Linked DNA regions of Homo sapiens. The protein of the gene in region 1 purifies or fractionates together with the protein of each later gene. This does not show direct contact. Each region holds a gene or a part of one and is shown in the gene's direction. Other genes may lie near its edges.

Evidence for each region. The genes of interacting proteins can lie anywhere in the genome.
Region 2: the proteins of PI4KB (region 1) and RAB11FIP3 purify together in Homo sapiens (pull-down; one study listed by IntAct). This does not show direct contact.
Region 3: the proteins of PI4KB (region 1) and ARL5B purify together in Homo sapiens (affinity purification with western blotting, with the first as the bait; one study listed by BioGRID). This does not show direct contact.
Region 4: the proteins of PI4KB (region 1) and ARL5A purify together in Homo sapiens (affinity purification with western blotting, with the first as the bait; one study listed by BioGRID). This does not show direct contact.

Annotation. Positions count from the first base shown.
Region 1 is NC_000001.11:151,317,417-151,320,916, reverse strand, and holds part of PI4KB (phosphatidylinositol 4-kinase beta), read left to right. Parts: intron 1-3,500. UniProt on the Homo sapiens protein: Phosphorylates phosphatidylinositol (PI) in the first committed step in the production of the second messenger inositol-1,4,5,-trisphosphate (PIP). May regulate Golgi disintegration/reorganization during mitosis, possibly via its phosphorylation.
Region 2 is NC_000016.10:428,649-432,148, forward strand, and holds part of RAB11FIP3 (rab11 family-interacting protein 3), read left to right. Parts: intron 1-3,500. UniProt on the Homo sapiens protein: Downstream effector molecule for Rab11 GTPase which is involved in endocytic trafficking, cytokinesis and intracellular ciliogenesis by participating in membrane delivery. Recruited by Rab11 to endosomes where it links Rab11 to dynein motor complex.
Region 3 is NC_000010.11:18,679,285-18,682,139, forward strand, and holds the end of ARL5B (ADP-ribosylation factor-like protein 5B), read left to right. Parts: 3' UTR 1-2,355; downstream 2,356-2,855.
Region 4 is NC_000002.12:151,807,922-151,811,421, reverse strand, and holds part of ARL5A (ADP-ribosylation factor-like protein 5A), read left to right. Parts: intron 1-3,500. UniProt on the Homo sapiens protein: Lacks ADP-ribosylation enhancing activity.

The DNA of each region.
Region 1 (3,500 bases):
CCCTTGAAAGTTTTGAAAAGTGTACTTCTAGGAGCTTTCAGTGACTTAAAAGTCTGTGGACTAGAGGGAGAGGAAAGGATGTACCAAACATAGAGACTGAGAAAAAGAAGTTGATTGTTTAAGATGATTGAGGCTATCACATGAGTTTCTAAGCAGACCTAAAAGGTAGTGGTCCCCGTTGAATCGGTGACCCTCTGATGAGAGTGCCCTACGAAGGTGTGGCAGGGAATGATTAAAGCTTCCTTCTTATTATTCCTGTGCAACTCACAGTTGCGAGTAGGGACAGATCCACATAGGCAGCCATGCTGGTTCTACTGCTCAGAGGGCACTACCTAATTTTGGGAGAGAGCATAGTGAAAGAGTTGCCACCTTCTTACCAATACCAAGCTCAATCTGCATCAGGGATATTAAATTCAGGAATGAACTTGCTTGGCAGAGTTGGCAGAAAGAAACAGAAATAGCCTTTTTTGGTGATCTCTGAGAACAGAAGAGTTCCCCATCCGTCTTTCTGCAAAACTTTAGTGGTGACTGCTGGGAGGCAGGGAGCTGGACTATATGATATTGGGCAGTTAAAAGTAACCTGGGGCCGGGCGCGGCAGCTCACACCTGTAATCCCAGCACTTTGGGAGGCCGAGGTGGGCAGATCACGAGGTCAGGAAATCGAGACCATCCTGGCTAACATGGTGAAACCCTGCCTCTACTAAAAATACAAAAAATTAGCCGGGCGTGGTGGCGGGCATCTGTAGTCCCAACTACTTGTGAGCCTGAGGCAGGAGAATGGCATGAACCCGGGAAGCGGAGCTTGCAGTGAGCCAAGATTGCACCACTGCACTCCAGCCTGGGCGACAGAGCGAGACTCCGTCTCAAAAAGAAAAAAAAAGTAACCTTAACATTTCAGACGTACAAGAACAGACACTGGAAGGGTGGTGGTGGAAAACAGCCTCCCAGAGGGACTAAAGAATCTCTAGGCCTCCTTATTCCACCTACCCAAAGTATATGCATCCAGGGTCACCGGGGTTGAAGGTGATGTCACTAATATTTTGAAATTACCTGTATTCCAACTCTACAAAATCTTTCCTCTTGCTCATGCTCTTGAGTGTGTCTTAGACTCACTCTATTAGCATTTTTGTGAAGAGGCCTCTGAGTCTGAGTCCTTTGTTAGCTATAGTCAGATTCTGGAGCCAGGTTGATCTGATGAAATTTCCCCAGTTCTGCACTGATTCCAGATTTGGTGAGGCTCTGAAGGATTGTTCTTGGAGAGCAGTGGCTTTGGTCAGCAGTGTTCTTTCATTGAACTTCCTTCCAACAGTCCCTCCAGAGGAGGTGTTCTTTGTTTTGTGACTCCTGTTCCTCCCTGTTCTTTGGAAGGCCTAGATCTATGAGTCCTAGTCTGATTTCTTTTTGCCTTTTCAATTGTCCCTCCAGTTGTTAGAATGTGTGTATGACAGTGGGGGGAGTGGTATTGGGGCAGAAAAGGCTGTCATAAGTATTTCTGGAAGATTCTCAAACAATTGGAACTCTTTGCTTCCCTTATAAAATAATATAAGTTTTATGTTACACACACACTGGTTAGTAACCTTTTAGGTGATGAGGATTCAACTAGCATTTCTTTTTTTTTTTTTTGAGACAGAGTCTCGCTGGTCTTGAACTGCTGACCTCAAAGTGATCCACCTGCCTCAGCCACCCAGTGCACTGGGATTACAGGCATGAGTCACTGTGCCCGGCCTCAACTAGCATATATTGAGTACTACTATGTATCAAAGACTGTGCTAGATTCTTTCATACACGTGATGGTATTTGTTCCACATAGCAACAATGAGAAGGAAGTGTTTTTTCCCAATTTGCAGTTGAGGATAAATGGCTTGCATAAGTTGCACATTTCTGAAAGGCTGAATGAGGATTTTCAACCCCAGCCTATTTGCCTTCAAGTCCAGAGCTCTTTCCATTATATGTTAGCAGCCACGGCACTGGAGAAAGAGGGTGTGATGTCATGATGTCAGACAACCAGAGAAACGGCACAGCTTCAGCAGGGTTGATGATGGTTGTTTTAGAGCTGCCTTCTTCTAAGTGAAGCCTGGCATGGTATTTACTGGCCTTTATTTTCTGGGAACTTCGAGTTTAAAAGGGAAGGTAAAAAAATACCTGTAACCAGAAAAATATATCAAGACTTTAATTTTATTTATTTATTTATTTATTTATTTATTTGAGACAGAGTTTCGCTCTGTTGCCCAGGCTGGAGTGCAGCGGTGCGATCTCGGCTCACCACAACCTCTGCCTCCCGGGTTCAAGCGATTCTCCTGCCTCAGCCTCCCAAGTAGCTGGGATTACAGGCATGCGCCACCACGCCCAGCTAATTTTGTATTTTTAGTAGAGACGAGGTTTCTCCATGTTGGTCAGGCTGGTCTCGAACTCCTGACCTCAGGTAATCCGCCTGCCTCAGCCTCCCAAAGTGCTGGGATTACAGGCGTGAGCCACCGCGCCCGGCCTTTTTTTTTTTTTTTGAGACAGAGTCTCACTCTGTCTCCAGGCTGGAGTGCAATGGCGTAATCTCGGCTCACTGCAACCTCCACCTCCCAGGTTCAAGCAATTCTCCGGCCTCAGCCTCCTGAGTAGCTGGGATTACAGGCGCCTGCCACCACGCCTGGCTAATTTTTGTATTTTTAGTAGAGACGGGGTTTCACCATGTTGGCCAGGATGGTCTCGATCTCTTGACCTCGTGATCTGCCCACCTCGGCCTCCCAAAGTGCTGGGATTACAGGCGTGAGCCACTGCGCCTAGCCAAGACTTTAATATTAAATAAAGATGGCTGGGCAAGGTGGTTCACACCTGTAATCCTAGTGCTTTGGGAGGCTGAGGCAGGAGAATTGCTTGAGGCCAGGCGTTCAAAGCTAGCCTGGGCAACACAGCAAGACGCCATCTGCACAAAAAAATTTTTTTTTAATTAGCTGAGCATGATGGCACACACCTAAAGTCCTAGCTACTCGGGAGGCTGAGGCAGGAGGATGCCTTGAGCCTAGGAGTTCAAGGTTACAGTGAGCTATGATCATGCCACTGCACTCCAGCCTGGGCAACAGAGCAAGACTTGTCTCTAAAAAATAAAAATAAAGGTGAGATGCACAGGACCTGTGTGTAGAATGTTATATGAGTAAGGAAATATAGTCTAAAGTGGAAAATAAAAAGGTTATAGCAGGCATTTAAAGGGAGACAGGAAGAGCAAGTGGATAGAAAAGTATTTGAAGAGTTAGGGAACAAGGGAGTAACACCTGACTTGCTTCTCAGTCTACCCGAAGAATCTGTAAATCACCAGGCATGGTGGCTCATGCCTGTAATTCCAACACTTTACGAGGCTGAGGAGGGAGGATTGCTTGAGCTCAGTTCAAGACCAGGCTGGGCAACATGGTGAGACCTTGTCTCTACAGAAAAATTTAAAAAATTAACCAGGCATGGAGGCACATGCGTGTAGTCCTGGATACTTGGGAAGCTGAGGTAGGAGGATTGCT
Region 2 (3,500 bases), on another chromosome or scaffold:
ACAGGAGTAGAACTAGGTCTTTTGGCCCTTAGACCTTAGATGCCTCTTCTTAGATGTGGTGGCTCACAATATCCCTATTGTGATAATATCTTACTGACTTTCATACAATTCTTTTTATTTGAGAAACATCTTTTGTCATAACCTCCCTTAATGATCACAATGGGAAAAACTTTGTGTTGCTATTTGGGGCTGAGCTTTCTTGTCATCACAAAGTAGAAATGAGACAAAATTCTTCACTCTGAATTCCAAGAGCTCTTGATGAAATTCGAAGGTTGGGGGCAAGGGCTGGATGACTTGGGATTTGGTGAGGATGGGGAAGTGGAAGGGATCTCCTGTGGTATTACTCCTTGTCTGTTCTTCTAGACGGCTTAGGAAGAAGCAATGTTGGGTGTGATCTGAGTGCCTGGACTTGGGCCGGCTTCCTGGGATGGAGGAGAGCTCTTGATTTCTTAAAGCTAAGTTACTGTTTGGCAACAGATAATTTACAGGGTAAAGAAAGGTTGATTTTCATGTTATGTAACCCTGTAGCCATTGCTCAGTTTTAGCAGTCTTGGTTCATCTGTAAACTCACCACTCACTACCCCCAGATGATTTTTGAAGTGGGTTCCTGACATTATATCATTTCTTCCATAAATGCTTCAGTATATATTTCCAAAAGATACCGATTCTTTTAAAGACATTAATGATTTTTTTAAAAACGCTAGGGAACAGTTCAGATTAACTGGATAACAGCAATAAAGGTCATAAGTTTTTGTACTTTCTACCTTGAGATTTCAAAATATTGAGCACATGAGAGACTCTTAGTCCAGTCACATTACTGTCCTTGATGATAACAACTAGATTATCTTAATTTTTTTTTTTTTTTGAGATGGAGTCTCGCCTGCTCTGTCGCCCAGGCTGGAGTGCAATGGTGTGATCTCGGCTCACTGCAACCTCTGCCTCCCGGGTTCAAGCGATTCTCCTGCTTCAGCCTCCCGAGTAGCTGGGATTACCGGTGCCCGTCACCACACCTGGCTATTTTTTGTATTTTTAGTAGAGACGGTTTTGCCATGTTGGCCAGGCTGGTCTTGAACTCTTGACCTCAGGTGATCCACCCGCCTCGGCCTCCCAAAGTGCTGGGATTACAGGCATGAGCCACTGTGCCCGGCCAAGTATCTTAATTTTTATCAAATTTTCAGAGGTAGCATATTGAGTATCTTCTATGTAATCTGTTTATGAAGGTAGCATTTTAAATTATTTAAATGGATTATCTGAATTTTTAATAGAAGCAGCTCCTGTTTATAATACAGATGGCTTTTGTGTCCCTGTTTCTTTAGCAATGTCATGGTGTGTTTGGATCTAATTACGTCATCTGGTGATAGATCAGGTGTAGTGTAATATAACACAGTGTTGTGTTAGCAGAAATCAGCACATGAAAGGAGCAAGTGGAGCTTTCTGGTTATATTTTTTTGAAACAGGAATTTATAGTCAGATGTGTCCAGGAATTAGGTATGAAGTTGGAATAGGTGATTTTTAAGGCTTCAACCATCTCTGGAGATTGACATGACCCCTTCATACTGAGAGGACTGATGCTTTTGTATTTACTGCCACCTATCATGAAGCAGAGATTGTAAAATAAATTCTAAGAGTGTTGTGAGAAAGGATTACTTTAATTTTGTTTTGTTTTTAAAGATTATAACTGTAATTTACATGTTATTTTTACAGTCACTTAAGCAGTTGCGTTTTAATAGCCACTGATTCTTTTCAGAGAATGTCCTTCAGTAACCTTGGTAGGCATTGTCTGTCTTCAGTACTTGCAGAAATAGGCTGCCGAAGGAAGTGTCGATGCTCAGATCTCCCTACGTTTTTTTATTCCTGCACCGCTAATGGTGGCAGTAGGAAGTTCCTAGGGACATTTGACTGCACCTTTTTGTTCGTTTGTTTTGAGACAGGATCTCACTCTGTCACCCAGTCTGAAGTGCAGTGGCAAGATCTCAGCTCACTGCAACCTCCACCTCCTGGGCTCAAGCAGTCCTCTCATCTTAGCCTCCTGAGTAGCTGGGACTATAGGCAGGCATGACCATGCTCCGCTAATTTAAAAAAATTGGCTGGGTGCAGTGGCTCACGCCTGTAATCCCAGCATTTTGGGAGGCTGAGGCGGGCAGATCATGAGGTCAGGAGACGGTGAAACCCCGTCTCTACTAAAAATACAAACATTTTTAAAAATTATTTTTGTAGAGATGAAGTATAGTATAGTGATACTGCCCAGGCATATTATTGAACTCCCAGGCTCAAGCGACCGTCCTCGGGCCTCAGCCTCTCAAAGTTCTGGGATTGCAGGCATGAGCCGTAGCGCCCAGCCTGGCATCGCCTTTTATTTGCCCTGTATCATTTCCAGTCTCTTAGCCTTGAATTTGAGTGAAAGTGTGTGTGAATGAGAGTGAGCATGTGTGTGTGTGAGCAGTTACATATGTGAGCTGGTGTGTGTGTGTGTAATATGTGTGTGCGGTGAGATGTGTGGGAGCATGTGTCTGCAGGATCAGGGATGTGTGTATGTGGGAGTGGGATATTTGTGTGTAAGTGGCATATTATGTATGTGTGTGAGCAGGTGAGTGTATGTATTCTGGGTCTACATGCTGACTGAATTGCTGAAAGGCAAATGAAGCTTGGGTTGTATAAAACAGAAAATGACCAATAATCCCACTATCCTGAGAAAAATAACATTCCCATTATTTTACTACATTTCTTTTCAGACTTTTTTTTTTTTTTTGAAATAGAGTCTTGCTCTCTTGCCCATGCTGGAGTGCAGTGGCACAATCTCAGTTCACTGCAACCTCCACCACGTGGGTTCAAGCGATTGTCTTGCCTGAGTCTCCTGAGTAGCTTGGACTACAGGCGTGCAACGCCTGGCTAATTTTTATATTTTTAGTAGAGACGGGGTTTCGCCGTGTTGACTAGGCTGGTCTCGAACACCAGACCTCAAGTGATCCACCTGCCTCAGCCTCCCAAAGTGTTGGGATTACAGATGTGAGCCACCGCACCTGGCCCAGACCTTTTTTAACACAGACATAGACACACAGGTGACTGTCTATAAAAGTACACAATTGAGATCATATTGGGGTAGAAGCTAAATTTTTTTTTTTTTTTGAGATGGAGTCTCGCTCTGTCACCCAGGCTGGAGTGCAGTGGCGTGATCTTGGCTCGCTGCAAGCTCCGCCTCCCGGGTTTATGCCATTCTCCTGCCTCAGCCTCCTGAGTAGCTGGGACTACAGGCGCCCGCCACCCCTCCCGGCTAATTTTTTTGTATTTTTATTAGAGATGAGGTTTCACCGTGTTAGCCAGTATGGTCTTGATCTCCTGACCGCATGATCCGCCCACCTCGGCCTCCCAAAGTGCTGGGATGATAGGCATGAGCTATGGCGCCCAGTGAAGCTAAATTATTTTTATAGATGTTCATTGTTTTAAAAGAAACTGGCCTGGCGCGGTAACTCACACCTGTCATCCCAACACTTTGGGAGGCC
Region 3 (2,855 bases), on another chromosome or scaffold:
TTGGCTTGTACTAATTGAATGGAAGTGGTTAATTTGTTCAGAGTTTATTGCCGTTTGATGCCACCCCAGTCTATAGTTCTGTGTGACTTTCCATATTGAAAGAGTAGGGTTAGTAGCCAGGTTGTCAGTCTTTTACAAATGTCTACATAAATGTCTACATAAATCTGAAAGTGGTTTATATTCAAGGTTAGTTTTTCAGTAGCGTCTCCTCCTTATTCATTCACTTTTACTGTGAAGACTGAAATCCAAAAGCCAGGTTCCCCAAAAAAGTATTTTTAAAAAATTTTAGGGGACCAAAATAAATAGAGGAAGACCAATATAAAAAAATATGTTCAACTATTCCATTTTAAATTTAAAGCAGAAAAAAAAATTGTGCCCCTCAGACCTAAAGGCAGCTTTAAATGTATATAGTTTGGTGAAACATTTGGGAAATATTAATTTGGAGGTTTAGAAGCATACGAAAAACAAATTCAAAGCACTTGAAAGTAAAGACAATATCATGAGGTCGAAAAAACTTCAAAAGGATATTAGGTAAGAGAAAATGTGAATGAAAGCAGTGAATTTCTGCCTCTCCTCGTATTTAGGGTACTTAAAATTACTAAAAAATACTGTCTTTTTACCATACAGCTAGATGGCCTGTATTATTCTTAATGTGGCCAAAGGAGTGAAGACTGATTAGGGTTTTAGAATTTGGAACTGTAGTCACATAAAGGCATCTTTTGCATTTCTTAAACCAGTAATCTACATTTTCTCCTGGAAATGGAGAAATATGAAATGTGCTGTGCATAGCTTTTGGAATAGAAAACAAAGTTTTAAAAGAATGGATATGTTTTCTTGCACAACTTGTAAAATTTTAATTAAAAAATTACCTCATTTTTCAATCCATAAGGTGCTTTGCTCAAGTTTGTGGGATGTTTGTACCATCCCATAAAAACCCCCTTCACCCAAACTGTATTTGAAATATGCAAAATTCATAACTAAGGGATAGCATTCCTTGGAGACTTTGTTTTGTTTTACTCTTGTTTACCAGCTGGGCCAACATGGTAGATATATGAGATTCACATATGGTTTCATTAAAGCACATAGGAAAGTGCTCAGTCAATATTTAATTAGTTTAATTAGATAAGGGAAAGGAGAAATCCTAAATTTGATGGATTCTTTTATACTGTGAATATATTTCCATCAGTGTTGGTAAGATATCAAATGACTATCAGTTGATCCCAGTCATCAGTGACTTATTTGCATATTTAAGCCCTATTCACAAGAGACCATAATCATTTTAATCTTATATTTTCCCTCAGGAAATTTAGGGACTCTGAAGCCCCTATTTTATTCTCTTGGAGTAAACTGTTGAGTGTAGTTACAAAAACTTTTATTTATGACTTAAAAAAAGTTTAGCTGCTATTTCAGTGAAAGTGTAAAATAAAACGGTCATGATTTTTTTCAATTACAGAATAGTTACAAATTTTACCATGTTCATCTATTCCACAGAGCATGTTAAAAACAACAACAACAAAAACCTAACAGCAATTACAACCTTGGTGTTGCGTTTATTCTAATCAGAGTGAATGATTATAATCACACTTTGCTATTTTAACATAAATTGGTGCTTTAGAGCATTAAAGAGGAAGCAGCAGGCCCTGTACTCAGTATTTATTATTTCTTGCCTCAGAATGCAAAACAACTTTAAAGTGTCTATATTCATATATATGTGCATTTCTTAAGATTTAAATACAAACTGTTGTTACTCCTTAAGCTTCAGGCTTTCTGCGAAAGCTCTAAGAATATCTTCATTACTATGCTTGGTCAACTGGAAGATGGTATTAATAAGGTCAGAATTAGGAATTGGATTGCTCTGTGGGTCCTCCGGTATTGTGCAGAGGAAAGAAAAATGTCTTTCACACCACAAACTGTGTGTCTGAACCCCAGCCAAACAAATGTGTTCCATTGGTCCAATATATAAGCATTAACAACAACAACAAAAAATTTAAAACAAGTAAATTAATGCATTCACATGATCACTTCTTGAAAATGGTTCAAAGCATGTTTTCCTGATGGTGGGATTGTTTAAATGACATGTTTTAAAGTTTTTAATACTTTATTAGTTATGAAGTGCTTCTTTTATATGTTAAGTTTAGGTTGCCAGTACTCATAATTTTTATTTCTGCAATTATGTTATAATGAGTTGTTTGCATGCCTACTTAACCCAAGTAAAACGATGCTGTTTGCTCTGGAATGTTCATCTTTTAGACAGGTTTTGGCTCATTTCCAATCATGGTGCAATATAGTGTAACATTCATTTGTTTTCATTCAACAGTTTTATTTTTGTCATAATAAATAATTACTTTTCCAATACGAAGTGAATCCAGTGTTTTCTTTTAAAGGTAAATCTGCTTTAAGTTATTTGCTTGCAAATAATAGAAACCCACCTATGCCAACAAAGAGAGGATAATTGGGGTGAGGTGGTGGAGGCTCACAGAACCCACGGAACAACTGGATTTGTAGAACAGACTGAGACTAGAGACTGGACCATTTAGGAGCAAGCAGGAAGTTACCTTTTTTCCTGCTCATCTGTTTCTGTCTTTCACCTGACTGGATTTCTCTGTTTCCTGATCCACATAACAGATAATGTCCCAAGTCCAGTAGCCTCCTAAATTTGTACAAGGGAGAAGTCAGATTATTGTTAGACTTTCAATTACAATTCCATATTCCCCAGGGAAATTGTTCATTAGCCTGCATTGGGTCATTTCCTCTCTCTGATCTAAACAACTGGCCAAGTGGAAGGTGCATTTACCAGAGAAGGGGAATCCCTGGCCTGGGAAGGTGATCCGGATTGGTGTGTACTCCATTGTGGG
Region 4 (3,500 bases), on another chromosome or scaffold:
TTTGGATATCTTATTGCAGATGCTACTTTCTCAACTCATTTATAGATAGGAATAGAAAAGTTAATATTTAGATATATAGAGTTTTTTATTTCAGTGGAATTTTTTGCAAAGCTTAGGAAAACACGGATATCTTTGTAGTGAAGTTTTATGTTAATTTTGTTATTGATTTGATGATTTGCTTTTGAGATTTGCTTTAAGAATTTTGTGTATTTCAGGCAACCTTTCAGGGCTTTAGGGAACCTAAGCTAGTAAAGTAGTTTTGTAAATTGAGGTTCCTCATTTCCTTATGACCACCAAGATGCACCTTTTCCTATTTTGGACTCTAATTCCAGCAGCTGTGTTTAAACCTCCTGGAGATTTACAGAAATACGTCTTGCCATTCTGTGTTCATTCGCCAGATTCATTGCTAGTTGGGATACAAGCAATAAGCCGTAAAAGAGGCAGAAGACAAAGGCTTTTTTTTGTTTGTTTTTTTTTCTTTTCAAATTCCTATTTTGCAAAAATGCAGCATTTTTCAGTTTATTCCAAAGGGTGGTTTTATGAAGACTTTGGAAAAAGAAAAACTGATACAAATGTTATTTGTCTCTGGACTATATCTTTTACTTTGTTGACAGGTAGTCTCCCTATCTGATTTTTACTCTAATTGGCCAATATGCAGCAGGATCACTATATGAAGAGCCCAGTAGTAGGGTTCAAAGTCTTTGATTTTTACTAGCTGGGGGCATTAACTTACATAGGTCACTTAACGTTATCTGTTATGGGTGACTACACTGGGGCCCAGAAAGGTTATGTGACTTGACTAGCTTTTTAAGAGCCAGGTTTTGAACTTGAGTATTCTCATTCAGACTCTTTATTAGCAGAAGTAAAAAGAAGACCTAAGTAGGGCCTAGTTGGAAAGTGAAAGGAGACTGAATGAGGAGATGACCAGAGAAGAAAGGAATTACAGATGAAGTTGGGAGTTTGAGCAAGGTACTCAGTAGGGTCAAGAAGAGCCAAACAGGCAAAATTCTGCAGAGAGACAAATGGATCAAAGAGTGAGAATGTGTGAGTGAAAAATAAATGTAGACATGATGTTAGTTGGATGTTTCTTACATACTACATAAATCAACAAAATCTTATTGTCATCACTGATAATGACTCTTTACATTATTACAAAATACAAAACTGTAAAAATTTTAAAATAATTTTCAAAGTTTTATCATAAATGAAGTATACAACTTTAGAACTCATTAATTTTAAAATGGTTCCAAACACCAAAGTCTGAAATTTTATTCAGAATGACTCAACTTCTAGGAGTTACCTTCACAAATGAAGTTTTTTTTTTTGTTGTTGTTGTTTTGATACAGAGTCTTACTCTGTTGCCCAGGCTGGAGTGCAGTGGCACCGTATCGGCTCACTGCAACCTCCATCTTCTGGGTTCAAGCAATTCTCCTGCCTCAGCCTCCAGAGTAGCTGAGATTACAGGCGCCCACCACCACGCCAGCTAATTTTTTTATATTTTTAGTAGAGACGGGGTTTTACCATGTTGGCCAGGCTGGTCTCGAACTCCTGACCTCAGGTGATCTGCCCGCCTCAGCCTCCCAAAGTGCTGGGATTACAGGCGTGAGCGCCCAGTCCCCAAATGAAGTTTTAAGAAACAAATTGACAACTATATATGGTATATAGAAGATGCTAAGTAAATGTGTCTTGCAATTGCTGTTATTCATCTCCTTGATAAAACTAAAATATATCTTAGACTAGAAATTTGTAGCAGAAGTGGTTTTAAAGTGTTTGAAATGGTTTATGTACAAAAGATCACCGTTGTTCACCTTATACTTTGACCTCTTGTTAAGTCACGTTGATGAACAGCCTTAATTTAATATATCTATTTTCTACTGTTCTAATATATACATATTTGGTTTTGAGGTTATATAATAAAAAGCAAATGAAGATTTTCTTCTCTTTCTAAATATGTAAAAATTGATAAAATAACTTCTTAGAAGTCAAGAACTCTAAATTAAAGTTTGAACCTTTTAGATCTAGAAAAACTGATTTAAGATATTTGGAGACCTTTTATTAAATGGCTTTGTTTTTTGTGTTTTTCAATTTTCAGTTCAGGGGCTTCTACAAATAATTTCATCATTAAGAGTGAATACAGATTACTTATAATAATATAAACCGTGTGTCCTAACTTGTGCCAAGTATTTGTCAGAAGGTTGTTCCTTCAACATGTCAACATTAGCAAACTTGACCTATATAAGACTTCAGCACACACTAGCAAGATGTACTGAAACTGAGAAGATAGGAAGTTAGGAATTAAATCCCATGGAAAGTCCATCTACTTATTGACTCAGCCACATAACAACTATTGATAATGGTTTCTTTGTGTTTTTTTGAGACAGAGTTTCACTCTGTTGCCCAGGCTGGAGTGCAGTGGCGCTATCTTTGCTCGCTGCAACCTCCACCTCTTGGGTTCAAGCTATTCTCATCCCTCAGCCTCCCAAGTAGCTGAGAGTACAGGTGTGCACCACTACACCTTGCTGATTTTTATATTTTCAGTTGAAACGGGGTTTCGCCCTGTTGGCCAGGCTGGTTTCAAACTCCTGGCTTCAAGAGATCCACCCACCTCGGCCTTCCAAAGTGCTGGGATTACAGGTGTGAGCCACCACACCTGGCTGATGAATGGTTTCATTTTCTGTTTAGGAGAAAAGAAAAAATATTTACTGTATATCCTTGATAATGACTATATGTATACAAGTTATACTTTATCTCTTCAAGTTTTTTGCCTTTGATATAGGCAGGTGAACTGAAATATAGGTGAAACTAGTTGAACATGAAATCTTAAAATTGCAAACATTGTAGCAGTATTCCTTTCTGACCATACTTAATGAGATAACTATATAAACTGTGGTAGCATTAATAGCTGCCATCCTGCAGAGGGCACTGTAATTAAAGTCAGTCTTGATTGTTATATAAATATTTTACATAACTCCTTTAACCAAATAAGAAATACAAATATACTACTAATGTTTTTATTTGCATCAGAAAGAATCATCAAAACTGTATTCTAACAAAAGTCATTTTGTATCTGCTGAAGATTTTATTTATTCAAACACATACATTATTGAAACCAAAATATCTCAGTAAAATCCCTAAGAAGACAAATGCCATTCAACAGTTGTGAAAACTTGCAAGTGTGGCACCAAAACCTTAATTTTATATCTCTTAATATGTAACAGGCAGAATTTTATGAGGGTTTCACTTGCTAATTGAGTACATCCTTCATGGATTCTTGGCCCAGTATCCATGTAGGGAATTTAGGCTATTTATTAACACCCTCAAATTGTACATAAACTTAAAAAAATTTTGTGTATATGCATATGTGTGTTTTGGGGGGAAAGATCTGTGATTTTGAACAGATTATCAAGGAAGTCCCTGGCTTTAAAACTGGCAGGTAGAGAGGAGTGGGGCAGGAAGAGACTAAGAACTTTTGGCCTGTTTAGTGAGTAAAACATTATACC